2 separate regions of the Homo sapiens genome follow, and region 1 is linked to region 2. The links come from fine-mapping of genetic effects on gene expression. Tissue or cell type: blood mononuclear cells. Region 2 holds a variant in brackets; the other region holds the start of a gene. All regions are shown on one strand. Distances are between the middles of the regions.

Region 1 (7,740 bases), 38 kb after region 2:
GAAAAATGGGAGCACATCATCTTATGGCATCATTGTGAGTATTAAAAAGCATAGTTAGCACCTATGACAGGATCTACTGCATTGTAAGTATTAAATAAATGGGATTTTTGCCTACTTTTCTCCCCATGTGATGGAAATAATACTTTCCCTGGGTTCCTGTTAGTATATTAAGAAAATTCCAAGGCTGGAATTATGCAACATTAAAATTAGAAGGAACCAAGGGCTGTCAATTTTACCTCTAAATCTTTTCTCGAAATCTTCCATTTCTTAGCATTTCTCCTAGTATCAAGCTGGTATAGGCTACCATCATCTCTCATCCTATTACAATGACCTCCTTCAAACCAGCCCTCAAAATCTCTATCTCTTCACCCTCTCCTCACTCCATTCTTGCATAGCAACAAGACACATGCTTAAAACTCTCTCATGTGCACTTAGAATAAAATCCAAACTTTATCATAGCCTTCAAGACCTGACACGGGCTGACTTGCCCAAATTTATATTTGCCACTTTCCCTCTTGCTCACTTCCCAGTACAATGTCCTTCTTTCAGAATTTTAGTAGTTACCCTCCTTGCCTCTGGGCTTTCCCATGTGCCTCTGTCATTTTGTCTCAAGGCATTCTGTAGGTCTTCATAGAACTCATAACCACTGTAATTAAATAATGAGGTTCATAGTTAGTTGTTTAATGTCTGTCTCCTGGATCATGTTCACCATTGTATCCCCAATACTTGGGACAGTGCCTGACACAGGGCAGGTATTCAATAAATATCTATTGAAGAGTAAATGAAGAGACATCTTGCCCAAATGCTTCATTTGTAGATTAGAAAGCTACAGTTAGGATACGCTACAGTTAGGATACAAGTGACTTGCCTAAGGCTGGAGCACCAAGAGTTCTTTTTTCCCAGGCCAATATTCTTTTTTTTTTTTTTTTTTTTTTTGAGACAGAGTCTCGCTCTGTCGCCCAGGCCGGACTGCGGACTGCAGTGGCGCAATCTCGGCTCACTGCAAGCTCCGCTTCCCGGGTTCACGCCATTCTCCTGCCTCAGCCTCCCGAGTAGCTGGGACTACAGGCGCCCGCCACCGCGCCCGGCTAATTTTTTGTATTTTTAGTAGAGACGGGGTTTCACCTTGTTAGCCAGGATGGTCTCGATCTCCTGACCTCATGATCCACCTGCCTTGGCCTCCCAAAGTGCTGGGATTACAGGCGTGAGCCACCGCGCCCGGCCTTCCCAGGCCAATATTCTTTTGCTCCACTTAACTCTGAGGTCCCTTCTACCTTTAACGTTCTGTTATCTCTGAAAATACAATAAAGTGTGAAAATATCTTACAGATGGAAGATACCTCTTTTTCGTTTTGTACAATACATTTGGCTCTATTTCCCACTCCCCCACCGGGCACTTTTATTATCCTGTTTCTCTGCTTCCTCCTAAAGTTAAATTTAACATATTTACTGCATAATCTAGTAGGTGAAGCAGATAATTCCTGTAAACAAGGAATCATATCCAATAAGGTAAATGCAAAGGCAAGATGAATGAAGCACAGAGAAAGTACAGCATAGGCTGTACTTTTTTGTGCAGGGAGTAGTAACGAAAAAAATTGTTGTGCAGGGAGTAGTAAAAAAGGAATCACAGAGATGATTAACTTGAGATAGCTTTTGAAGGATGATAGGCGTTTGCCAGGTGAAGGAAACATTCCAAGCAAGGGAAACAGCACGTGTACAGAGGCACTGCATCCATTCAACACATACTGAGTGCCTACCAGCAACTCCAAGCTGCTTTCTCTACGTGGGAAAATGCATAGGTCACTGAACTCCACAAATGGTAGTTGGTACTGCCACAGAGAAGAGGAAGCTGCAAATGTAGTGGAAAGCAAGGGTTAGATCAGAGCACCTTGTACGCCACGCTCAAAGGCACGTACTTTGATCTATAGAGATGGAAATCCACGGAAGACTTTTGAGCAAAGAAGTGACAACCTCTGATTTACATCTGTTTTGAGTTTCCACTCAGTTTGGATCACGCCCCAGATTCAATAAGGAAGACAGAAAAAATGCCTCGAGAATCTGCATAGGCCAAACACAACACACCAAACAGTCACACATGCGAACATACTAGGTATTTACAACAACTTGCTGAGATGGTTGGGCAGAACTCACTACCGCACAGTTAAAGAGAAAGCTTGGAAATAGTTACGTGACAAACGTTGAGGTGCCCAGGCCCGGCGCCCCAGGGTTCCCGGACACCGCCCGAGGCCTCCCCACCCTCCGGCACACACCCGCTCACCTCTGCAAGTTCTCGATCTCAGCCGGGATGCTCTGCAGTTGGTTGCCGCCCAGGCTCAGGGTCTGCAGCGCGCGCAGCTCTAAGAGCGAGGCAGGCACCTCCTGGAAACAGTTGCCGCTGAGGTTGAGCACCTGGAGGCTGCGGCAGAGCGGCGACTGGGCCAGGCCCTTGGGCAGCGCACTGGGCCCGCCGAGCCGGTTGTTCTTGGCCAGCAGCGTGCGCAGGCCGCGCAGAGCGAGCAGCTCCGGCCCGAGCGCGGTCAACGCGTTGCCGCTCACGTCCAGCAGCTGGAGGTGCGGGAAGCCGCTGCCCAGCGCCCGTGGCAGCGACACCAGACGGTTGTGAGGCAGCAGCAGCCGCAGCAGCGCCTCCCGCGCCCCGCGCCGCTCCTCCCCCCGCGCCTCCAGCTCAGACTCCAGCGTCTCGGTGGACACGCTGAGGCGGGACCAGTTCAGTTCGGCCTCCCCGGCCGTGACCACCGCTGCTCCGGCCTCCTCCATCCTGGCCACCGCACGGCGCGTGGCGCCGGATTCCCCAGAGCGCCGCGCGCGGTCCAGAGGCCGGGAGCTCTGCGGCGCCCCGGAACCTGAACCGAGGGCTGAGTCGGAAGTGGCGCGGGCGGGCGCAAACCCTGCGCGCCTTGGCCGAGTCACGCGACGCGAGTCCTGGGGTGCGCGCGCCGCTCCGGGGCGGGCTCTGCCTCACGAGGCGCGGGGCGCGGAGTGGCAAGAGCGCAGCATGGGCTGCGCAGAACTGAGGCAGACACCCAGAGGCTGCCAAATTGTCATCTGAGCCGGACCGGGTTTCGGCGGCCGCGCTTTATAGTCGCTGGAGCCTGGTGACCTATTCCAGGGCTACAAGACTGCCTCGGCAAACAGCCCAAGGATGTTCGGTTATCTCGCCTTGAGGGTTCGCGCGTCACGTGCCCCCCCCGTCCCCCGCTTGTTTTTCAGTTTAAAAGTGGGGCCCGTGTCTGCAGGACTCTGTGAGCACACAGTAATTTAGTGGTGATTTAGCTCCATGACAGAAAACCGCAGGAATTTAAAGTCCGAGGATTAACAAAGCCGACCTCGAAATGTGAACGCAGCTGGACTAGACCTCAGAACCCCCGGACCCTTACTGGAGGTTCCGCTGTTAAATAGCCTAGGGCAGGGATTTGATTTCAGTTGCCCCATGCATAAAATATGGGTAACACCCGCACTACTTGCCCCACAGAATTATTTTTTTCTTTTTTAAGGCAGAAATGTGTATCAAGTAAGGACGTTTTGCCCGTTTTAATTGTAGAAGCACATACGTGGCTTTTGGTGTAAGTTGTGTCTAGGAGTGAATTTGGGAGATATGGAGGCGGTTGCATGATTTGAGATAGCTCAAATTAATGAGTTAGTTTAAAAACTCAAAGCATAGAGTTTGTACTGCAGGTCAAAACTACAGTTTGGGAAAATCCTGATCTGGTACTAATTTAGTAATTCTAATTAACGTATTTTTCATCCTTGTCCCAAACTCAATCTTTTCTGAAATTACATTTTATGATTTTGAAAAGTAATGAATAGAAATGAGAAAAAATGCTTAGCTTTTTTTTTTTTTAACAAAGCTTATACATAAGAAAGTTAAGTGGTCGTGTATAATCAACGACATTAAATTGCTTTCCTCCTTAAAAAAGGAAAGTCGTTTTTTTCTTGCCAGTCATTTATTTGTATGAGAAACTATGCCTTTACTCTGCAGTCAAACTTTAATTTCTGATTGAGTGGTAGTCCTAGAAGGACGTACTTTGTATGTTTAAGCTAATGGTGGAATGCTTTTTAAAACTGATGAGTCATCTGTTTTGAAAGAGTCCTTTTAAGAACAGACCTTATTTTGGGTCAAGCCAGCATTCTAACAGTAGTCCTAATATCTGAAAATAACAAATATTTAAAATAATAGTTGTTTTTGCTTTAAAATATTTATCTTGGATTTTAAAAAGTGATAGGAACGTAATGTAAAATGAGAAAAAGAAAGGATTCAAACATAATTCAGAAATAAGAGTTGGCCAGGTGCCATGGCTCATGCCTGTAATCCCAGTGCTTTGGCCCAGGCCAGCAGATCGCTGAGGTCAGGAGTTCCAGACCAGCCTGGCCAACATGGGGAAACCCCGTCTCTACAAAAAATACAAAAATTAGCCGGGCCTAGTGGCGCTCGCCTGTGGTGCCAACTACTACACAGGCTGCTGGGAGGATTGTTTCAGCCTAAGAGGTAGAGGTTGCAGAGAGCCATGATTGTGCCACTGCCCTGCACTTTTTTTTTTTTTTGTCTCAAGAAAAATAAAATAAGAGGTAAGATTACAAATCAGTGGAATTAAAGGGAAAAAGATAACCTCAATAATAGCAAATGAGGCTTCCTAGTAGAAAGTTTGGAAAAAAATACTTAGTATGGGAACTCCACATTATATAGAATAAAGGAAAGGAAGTAGAAAAAAAGTGGTGTAGGTAAAGAAATGAGTAACCTGACAAATTTTGAAAACCTACTGCTTGCAACGCTGTACTAGGAGCTTTTAATTTAATAAAGTCTCCAACTATTTGGTTGTTGAATTTAGGATAAATGTAACCAGACCATTGAGCAGCTAAGATAACTGAGAAACTGCTTTCTAAAAGTTGAAAACTGTGTTTCTGCCTCATTGAAGCTATTGGCAAGGAAACTGTAAATTTCAGTGTAAAATGCACATCTCATGTCCAATTAGAGTAGGTTCCTACTTACATAGAATGACTATCTTTATTCATTTTTGGATTCTCCCTCACACCACCACCATCCCCCATTGCCTAGTATGATTTCTTGCAAATAATTTGGATTGACTGAGTTGGATATATCTCTTAGTTAGTGGACTTATTTTTTGAATAATTAGAGTAAATTGTAAAGTCCTTGAAAAGAACTGTCTTATTATTATATACCCATCCCCTAACAGTGCCTGCTCCACAGTAGGTACAGGTACTCTATATCTTTTGAAACACTGAATATATTTGTAAATATTAAGTTTTAGTTGAAAAGGAATTTTTATTTATCAAACACCTTTTATCACAAACCTTAAAAAATGTAATTCTACTTATCGCCACATTTATAAATAAGAATGTTTATCCGCATTTTAGAAATGAGGGAACTCAAGCTCAAAAATGATGAGTAAAGTCTGCTATCACAGAGAGTGAAAGGCTAATTAGAAATTCAGCCTTAGGGCTGTGTGGCTCCAAAGTCTATGTTCTTTCCACTACACTACACTGCTCTCTTGAGCTTAGTTTTTTTTGTTTTTTGTTTTAAATGATTCAAAGCAATAAGATCTTCCAAATAGTGTCAGTATTACAAGTGGCATCTATCCATTGATGGTACTTTGAAATATTGTGATTGTTGGAATTATACGGCACTTGTCTTAAGGATTGGGGGTTTTGTGGGCTTCATACACAAAACTGGAGCAGAGGCACCTGAACCAAACATAATTTGGGGTGCTGTCCTTGTATCATATGACGTCACTTTAGAACCTATGTTGATCGGAGCCATAGTGGACATCTGACCAAGGTAAGCCCATCAACAGACTGCCTGGTGGCCTGTCACTTATAAGGCACTGCCCAAACAGAAGCAGAGATTATTTTTTTTTCTCACTCGCCCAGGAATTTAATCCAAAGAACCCAGAGGGAAATTCCAGTTGGTGGCAGATCAGAAAGAAATTACAGTTGAATCAGAAAGAAGCAGACATGGGGAATGTCGCTAATTTTTTGTCAATTGTGAAACATAAGTGTGAAGATTCATAAAATATTGCTGCTGAAATCTAGGACTGCCTCATATCCAGAGTAACGCACCAGGTGCAGCTTCACTGAGGCCAACTTGTTAACAGCTGGATTAAATGTGAGCATCTTCTTACTGCCCAGTATAATAACCCTTCTCTATCTTAGCTAACGTGGATGTATCTCTTTTCACTGCAGCCAGATGGGTTTAAATGAAGCAGCATCCCCCAATCTTACAGTGGCCCTTGAAACCCTCCAGTCAGCCTGGAGAATACTGAAAACTTTCTGGGAGGTAAAAGAGCTGTGGTGGCTTGTGAACCCCCACAGTGATGGGGTTCATCTGTGGCTAGCTGAAAGAGATGCCTGAGAGGGGAGTGGAGGCACTGGAGAAGGTAAAGGACAGAGGAGACAACAGAATATGTTACATAGGGAAAGGAACATGGGTTACAGGGAACTGGGAAAGTACATGGCCTGTTTGTCCACTTATCAGAACTTCACCATTATGTCAGGCTTGGCCAATTGAATACATTTCAAGATAAGTCTCTTGACTGGAATAGTATTGGACATTTAGGAGACCAAATGAATTCTCCTCCTCCTTCAGCTACCCTTTCTAGGCTTCCTGAAGGCAGGAACTGCATCTGTTTACCATGGTATCCCCCAAGACATCGTAGGCAGCAAATAGTGAGTGAACGCAATAAATGCATGAATAGTTTTTGACATACCTTACTTAAATAGGCCCTATTGACCTACTGACTGCAGAAAAAACAAGAAATAATCTAAGTAGAGAATCCTTTCATAAACCATTCTAGTTAGGAGGCAGCATACTGATGCAGTTAAAAGAGTGGGCTTTGGTTTTTATCAGATACAGGTTTCAAAACCCACCTCTGGAAATCAGATTTCTCTTACTTAATCTTGATTTTGTTACTTAATTTCTGTAAGGCTTGATTTCATCATCTGTATTATAAAATATATTATCTGTTCCATAGGGTCATTGTAAGGTGAAAATCTAAAGTGCTTAGCATAGTACCTAGCACAAAGTCAATACTCTGTAAGTAGTGGCAATTATTATTATTAGCTGTAATAGTAGTTAATGTTATAACTATTGCTCTCTGCCACTTGTTATATCATGATCAGGGTAGAAAAACAAAGTTGAGAACAGTCTTTACTCATGATTGCACAATTTCCTACATAAACCATGGTCCTCTGCTCTGGGCCATTCTGTGTCTTAGGGATTAGGATTTGGGAGGTTGGTCTGACCTCTCTTGCCCAAGATTTATGCTTATTGTCTTTTTTGTCTTCAAGGTATATCAGGACCTCATGCCTGCTAAACCCACTCCTACCTTTATTTTAGCCACCTCTGATTCAGACTGTCCTTTCTAAAGCACTGCTTTCATGATTTCAACCCATCTCTTTTCCTCCTGCCTTTACCCCATGTTTCCTCATTGCTTATCAGATGAAGGCCAGTTGCTTAGGCTAGCATGCAAGGTTTTGATTTATTTCCACTGCTAAATCCCTCTCAGTCTGGTTTATCCATATTGGCCTAGGATGGTTTAAAGTTCTGCCATCTCCCTGCCAATTGTCCAAATCTCAAAAACCGGTTACTCTATGTTTAGGGCAGCATTGAAAGTAGAAGGAGCTATAGTCTTTCAATCGATCCTGAGGAGGAGTTGGCTTCTATATTTATAGGGACCAAGAGTAAGTCTTCAGCCAGTTTTGTGAT
Region 2 (7,740 bases):
AGTGCAGTTGCGTGATCTCGGCTCACTACAACCTGCGCCTCCGGGATCAAGCGATTCTTCTGCCTCAGCCTCCCGAGTAGCTGGGACTACAGTAGCTGGGACTACAGGCGCCCGCCACCACGCCCGGCTAATTTTTGTATTTTTTTTTAGTAGAGACGGGGTTTCACCATGTTGGCCAGGGTGGACTGAAACTCTTGACCTCGTGATCTGCCCACCTCGGCCTCCCAAAGTGCTGGGATTACAGGCATGAGCCACTGTGCCCGGCTCTCTTTCTAATTTTTAAAAATTGACTTTGTTGCTCTTTTTTTCTAATTTCTTGAAATGAAATCTAATATTATTTTTATATTATTTTATGAAAACTTTAATGTACACATTTTCTTCTGAGTAATTTCCACTGTGTCATTTGGATTTTGGTAAAAAGTGTTCTCTTTTTCATTGCTTTATAGATATTTTATAATTTAAAAAATTTTTTTCTGTGTGTGGTTTCTTACTATCTTTACATTATTTGTTTTCAATCTGTTGGCTTGAAATAAAGGAATGTGGTTTTTAGAGTCTGTTAAGGTTTTCTTCTTGGTCAAATATGACTGACTTTTGTAAATATTCTATCGGTACGAAAACATGTTTTCTTGTAGTTCGAGGGATGTTAGAGCTTACACATAGATACCACATCATTTATTAATTGTATTATTTAATTCCTATGCCATCCCACATTTGCTATATACCAAATTTATCCAATTCTGAAAAAAAAGTTTAAGTTTTCCAATATAATTTTATTTAATCAAATTCTTCTTTTATTTCTTACAGGTTTTGCTTCATATATCTAGCTATTATGTTGTTTTGTATCTGCACTTACACATTCTCCATCTGTAATTATCTAGATATCTTTTGTCTATATATGTCTTTATATTGATTTATTTGTTCTACATTTTGTTGCTCACTACTGAAGCAGTGTTGTTTGTCTGGGGTAATACCCCAGGTTCATTGCCTCACACCAAGGAAATCAAGGAAACGGACTAAGAAGGAGTGAGTTTAAGAGTGAAAGTTTAATAGGCAAAAGAGAAAAGCTCCCTTGTGCAGAGGGAGGGGGTTCCAAACGGATCTCCCGGAACCTGGCAAGATGCGGCTGGTTTTACGGATGGGCTTGAGGAGGTGGTGTCTGATTTGCAGAGGGTGCAGAGAATTGGTTGGACCAGGTGTGTCATTTGTATAGCATCTGAAGAGGCTGGCCACTGCACCCTAATCTTTTATTATGCAAAGGAATTTTCTACCTGGCTGGCACCATGTTCCCTGTTTCTTTACTGCACACATGGTGACAAAGAAAATGGAAGATGGAGCTTCCATGTTGAACATGCCTGGCCCCAGATAGCCTTTTCCTATTGGCACAGCTGCCGGCATTCACCTGCACAAGCTTCCAGCTTGCTTATCTATGTCTGCAGCTCGATTTTACTGGCTGCTGTTTGTTAGAAAAGAAATGGTTTTGGGGCTGTTTTTTGTTAAAAGTGAAGCCTCACCGAGGACTCTCTTACCCTCACTAACTGCCTAAATAATTTCTTTTCAGCTCCTATATCTCTACCATTTCTTCCCTTCTTTATCATCTTGTAGTTTCTCTTATGGTTAATCTATCATCTGGCTAGAGTCACTTCTTAAGTATTTTCTTAGGGTGGGAAAATGTAGGCATTAGTCTTTGACTTCATACATACCTACAAATAATTTCTTCCTATCACTCTGACAACTAAATGATTCTTTGGCTGGTCAAGAAATTCTTGAGTTGGAGTCCTTGCATTTCAGAAGTCTGCAGATATTCCACTAACTTCTAGCTGCTGCTGATGCACAAGAAGTCTGATTCTGTTTGCATTATAATTAATAAGGCAATTTATTTTTTCTGAGTGGAAAAGTTTGTAAAGATTTCTTTTTTTCCTTAGAGTTCCAGAATCTTTCCAGAATATTGCTAAGGGTGTGTGTGTGTGTGTGAATTTATCAATCAAGCCTGGACTTGTTGAATCCATTTAATCTGTAGATTCAGGTATTTCTTGGTCCAAAAATTTTTCTCCTTTCTTATGTTGCTTTTCCTTCTATGTGTCTTTTTCCCCATCTGGATCTCCCAATATAATATGCTAAACTTCTTGGATCTATCCTCAAAATGTCACATATCCTTTCTCTCATGATTTTAATTGCTTTTGTGAACCCAGAAAATCTGAAACAGGTCTCAATTAATTTAGAAAGTTTATTTTGCCAAGGTTGAGGATGCGTCATGACACAGCTTCAGGAAGTCCTGATGACATGTGCCCACAGTGGTCAGGGCAAAGCTTGGCTTTATACATTTGGGGAGACATGAGACATTAATCAATGTATGTAAGAAGTACATTGGTTCAGTCTGGAAAGGCAGGACAACTTGAACTAAAGGCAGGAAGCAGGGAGGGAGCTTCCAGGTCACAGATAGGTGATACACAAATGGTTACATTTTTTTGAGTTTCTGATTAGCCTTTCCAAAGGAGGGTAAGTCAGATATGTATCTATGTCGGTGAGCAGAGGAGTGACTTTGAATAAAACGGGAGGCATGTTTGCCCTAAGCAGTTTCCAGCTTGAGTTTTCCTTAGTGATTCTGGGGGCCTAAGATATTTTCCTTTTATACTTTATATCTTTCCTCCTTGTTCTAAGCTATTTTCCCCATTTGATCATCTAGCCCACTAATTTGGGTCTCAACAGTGATCATCTCCTTTCACTCATGTAAGGAATTTGAAGTTGCAAAATCTTTTATTTCTTTTTTTTTTCCTTTAGATATTAATATATTGTTTTTTGCTTTGTTGACTCAGTGGGGCTCATGATTGGTTGTGGAGTATCCTGAGAAGCAGGAGTCATAGTAAGGGAGGAGAACACCCCTCTTATTGTCTTATGCCCAATTTCTGCCTCCAAAGAAAAAAGAATTAAAAACTGAAGGGCAGAAATGAAATCCACAGGCAGGCAGCCCAGCAACGTGCCTTGGGCCTAGTAGTTAACAATCAACTCCTGACTTAACTGCTTGTGTCCCAGACATTGTATGGAAAAGCATCGTGAAAATCCCTGTCCTGTTCTGTTCCATTCTGATTACCGGTGCATGCAGCCCCCAGTCAGGTACCCCCTGCTTGCTCAATCGATCATGACCCTCTCACTCGACCTCCTTAGAGTTGTAAGCCCTTAAAAGGGACAGGAATTGCTCACTCGGGGAGCTCGGTTTTTTTGAGACATAAGTCTGCTGATGCTCCTGGCCAATAAAGCCCTTTCCTTCCTCAACTCGGTGTCTGAGGGGTTTTGTCTGTGGCTTGTCCTGCTACATTTCTTGGTTCCCTGATCTGGAAGCAAGGTGATAAGCGGATGGTCGAGGCAGCCCCTTAGGCGGCTTAGGCCTGCCCAGTGGAGCATCCCTGTGGGAGACTCTGGCCAGCTTT[G/A]GCGATGCGAATCCTGAGAGCGCTCCCCGGTAGGCAATTGCCCCAGTGGAACGCCTCCAGAGCACTGCACGGTAGGCCCCCGCGGAGGATTAATGCAGCGGCTGAACACCGGGAAGGAATTGGCGCTTGGAGTCCGGACATCTGGAACACGGTAAGACCGGTCTTCGAACTTGCCCACTCCATCTGAGTGGAAGTGTGGCCTGATCACCCATGGCGTGCCTTTTTGGCACCTTGGTTTTGGTTTTGATTTTGACTAGATTTGCACTGTTTTGGTTTAGATTTCAGTATTGACTTTTGGTTTTGAACTGTTTTGGCTTTGATTTCGGTTCTGACTTGGCTCAAATTGCTTGATGAATAAGTAACTCCTTATCCATACTTTGGTTTTAGTGTGAATTGCTTGGTGAGTGAGTGACTTTTTGCCCCTTTTTCCCTTCCCTCTTTGTGGTAAGAGTGTTGTTTTGTCTCCTGAGGAAAATGAGTAAAACACAAAGTAAGCCTACCTTGTTAGGAACTATGTTAAAGAATTTCAAGAAAGGATTCAATGGGGTTAATTTTGCCACATATCACCTTGTGAGGTTTATTATAGGAGGGTGTAGGTAGTTTGTTTATGCTTCCCACGACCTCCCACTGTGCGGTCCAGATGGTTTGTAATTGGGGTTTGCTTACTGCAGCAAGGTCTGATAAGTGAAGTCTGCTGGCTTCACCGTGGTGCCTAGACAAGGGCTTAGAAATGTAAAGAGACTTGGGGGAAGTGTGGGCAGCACCAAGAAGCTTTCTTGGGGGAGTCTGTCCCTAACAACTCCTGTGTGCCTTGACGTTTATAGTGGTGGGAAGAACTGTGGATTGGGAGAAAGTGAGAGCAGCAAGATTTTAGAGCCAGACCAAGGTACAAAAATAACATAATGGGTAGTGCACACGTCTTAGTGTCACTGTGCTTCTCTGATGACATAAACAATTTAAAAGTTATCTGCACATCTAATATGGCTAGCACAAATCACAAGAACCTTAGAAAATACTTCCTTTGGCTGGGTGTGGTGGCTCATGCCTGTAATCCCAGCACTTTGGGAGGCCAAGGCGGGTGGATCACCTGAGGTCAGGAGTTCGAGACCAGCTTGACCAACATGGAGAAAACTTGTCTCTACTAAAAATACAAAATTAGCCAGGCTTGGCAGCACATGCCTGTAATCCCAGCTACTTGGGAGGCTGAGGCAGGAGAATCACTTGAACCCAGGAGGTGGAGGTTGCAGTGAGCTGAGATTGCACCATTGCACTCCAGCCTGGGCAACAAGAGCAAAACTCTTGTTTCAAACGTCTCAAAAAAAAGAAAGAAAGAAAGAAAAGAAAGAAAATGCTTCCTTTAGTGACCATTGTTAAGCTTCAGAATTCCTAAAGAAGAAAAATCTTCTGGGAGTTATTTAAACATAGGATATGTTTTTACCCTAATGGATTAATTGTCCTTTTGCAAAAAGTGGTGTGATGATGACTTCTCAAGTTCTTGCTGCTAATCCTTTGATTCTATGTTTTCTTAGAACTAGAAAGAAATTCCTGGCTCTCTCTCTAAGATGGCCAACTACACGCAGCCAGGAGGAACATCTCCCCCCAAGGGACTAGGACATCCGAAGACTGGCAGACCTTGTCTGACCAGCAGAGTGCTCCAGCAGAGTGGCCCCTATGGACACACACCAGCCTGCCTGTGCCCTCCCTCCACTGCAGCCTCCCCCATGCCACTTTGACTGCATGCACTTGCCCACAGCCACCCCCTGCATCACTGTGCCAGTGTATGTGTATGAAGGCAGACTTTGCCTTACCTTCCCTGCCAGTATGTGTGGGTGTGTGCACCCTGCCATGTCACTGCTGCCAGGGTGACTGCACCCTGCTCCCCTCCCCCGTCACAATGCCATTGTTGTCAGATGGTGGTGAGCATGGAGCTTGCCAGTCCTACCCCTGCAAGTGCCCTGCCTCTGTGCCAACACTGCCACTGGCACATAACTAGTCATGGAGAATAGTGAACCCACCCTTGCTCTGACCAGCCACTGCTGTGGGTGTGAATGTGCACAGAGACCTCACACAGTCCTGCACCCTCCAGTGCCCCAACCCTGTACTAATACCACCACCAGAGGAACATGCACACAGCCCCATGAAGGCTGCCACCCTAGTACCCACTAGTACCCTGCTGTAGCTGATGAGCATGCAGTATGCATCCCACCATGCTGCTGCTGCTGCTGCAGCTGGCACAGGCAAATTAGGACAGATCACACTGTCACCCTGCTATGATGTGCTTTGGATGGCATCACCCATTAGAGTATTGTGACCAGTAGTCTGGGAACACCTTGGCCCCTCCAGCACAATAGGTTCATAACCTCGAGGAGCCAGAGAACAAAGTTGGGGCTCAATACCAGTCTCCCAGAGTTAGAACATGCAGTCCAGGAGTCCTGAGCTGAAGCTTGGCCCCCTAAAATCTTCCAGAAATGAAGTCAGTCACCTGAACCCAACACTACTATAATCAGGTCCCCAAGGTCACCAAATAGGATAAAGACAAAAAAGACAGCAACTTCAAAGATGGAAAGAATAAAAGCCCACAAATATAAGAAAAAACCAGCACCATAACTCTGACAACTCAAAAAGCCAGAGTGCCTTCATTCCTCCAAACAACTGTACTTGTTCTCCAGCAAGGGTTCTTACCTGGCTGAGATGGCTGAAATGACAGAAATAGAATTCAGAATATGGATAGGAATGATCATTGAGGTTCAGGAGAATGTTGAAACCCAATCTAAGGAAGCTAAGAATCACAATTAAATGATACAGAGCTGGCAGACAAAGTACCCAGTATAGAAAGAATATAACCAACCTGAAAGAACTGAAAAACACTCTACAAGAACTTCATAATGCAATTGTAATTAATAGCACAATAAACCAAGCTAAGGAAAGAATCTCAGAGCTTAAAGACTGACATTCTGAAGACAGACAAGAATAAAGAAAAAATATTGAAAAGGAATAAACAAAACCTCCAAGAAATGAGGGATTATGCAAAGAGACCAAATCTATGACTCACTGATGTCCCTGAAAGAGAGACTGGTACCAATTTGGAGAATGGTACCAATTTGGAACATATATTTCAGGATATCATCCAAGAGAATTTCCCCAACCTAGCTAGAGAGGCCAACATTCAAATTCAGGAAATGCAAAGAAACACAGTAAGATACTTCACAAGAAGATCATCCCCTAGACACGTAATCATCAGATTCTCCAAGGTCGAAATGAAAGAAAAAAATTTAAAGGCAACTAGAGAGAAAGGCCAGGTCACCTACAAAGGGAAGCCCATCCAACTAACAGCAGACCTCTTGGCAGAGACCCTATAAGCCAGAAGAGATTGGGGCCTATATTCAACATTCTTAGAGAAAATAAATTCCAACTAAGAATTTCTTGTCTGCCCAAACTAAACTTCATAAGCAAAGGAGAAATAAGAAATTGCAAATGCTGAGGGAATTTGTTACCACCAGACCTCCCTCAAAAGAGCTCCTGAAAGAGGCACTAAATATGGAAAGACCATTACAAGCTACTATAAAAACACTCTTAAGTACACAGACCAGTGACACTATAAAGCAACCACACAAAGAAGTCAGCATAATAAACAGGTAATGACATGAAGACAGGATCAAATCCACACATATCAATACTAACTTTGAATGTAAATCGACTAAATGCTCCAAGTTAAAGAGACAGAGTGGCAAGCTGGATAAAGAAGCAAGACACAATAGTATGCTGTCGTCAAGAAACCCATATTATATGCAATGACACCCATAGGCTCAAAATTAAGGGATGGAGAAAAATTTACCAAGCAAACAAGAACAAAAATAAAAAAAAATAGGAATTGTAATCCTAACTTCATACAAAACATACTTTAAACCAACAAAGATCAAAAAAGACAAAGAGGACATTCCATAATGGTAAAGGGTTCAATTCAACAAGAAGACCTAGCTCTCCTGAATATATATGCACCCAACACAGGAGCACCCAGATTCATAGAGCAAGTTCCTAGAGACCTTCAAAGAAACTTAGACCCCCACACAATAATAGGGGGAGGCTTCAATGCCCCATTAACAGTATTAGACAGATCATTGAAGCAGAAAATGAACAAAGATAATCAGGACCTGAACTCAACACTGGACCAAATGGACCTCATGGACATCTACAGAACTGTCCATACAAAAACAACAGAAAATACATTCTTCTCATCAACACACATTCTATATCAACCACACACTTGGACATAAAACAATTCTCACCAAATGCAAAAACCCCAAAATTACACCAA

Evidence for each region. PIP is the estimated chance that this variant, and not a neighbour inherited with it, causes the effect.
Region 1: it holds the start of LRRC58, and the variant in region 2 is fine-mapped to the expression of LRRC58 in blood mononuclear cells (TOPMed, PIP above 0.99).

What each region holds. Positions count from the first base shown.
Region 1 is chr3:120,346,467-120,354,206 of GRCh38, forward strand. It overlaps LRRC58 (leucine rich repeat containing 58), which reads right to left and starts at 2,888. Exons shown (of 4, transcript NM_001099678.2): 1 at 2,278-2,888. The coding sequence starts at 2,777. It also overlaps the pseudogene BTNL12P. RefSeq lists an enhancer at 2,154-2,203 and a silencer at 2,554-2,883.
Region 2 is chr3:120,308,604-120,316,343 of GRCh38, forward strand. No RefSeq gene overlaps it. Among named protein-coding and RNA genes, the nearest start is that of GPR156, 27 kb to the left of the region's middle. RefSeq lists an enhancer at 4,746-5,349. The variant G/A (reference allele first, on the strand shown) is at 3,426.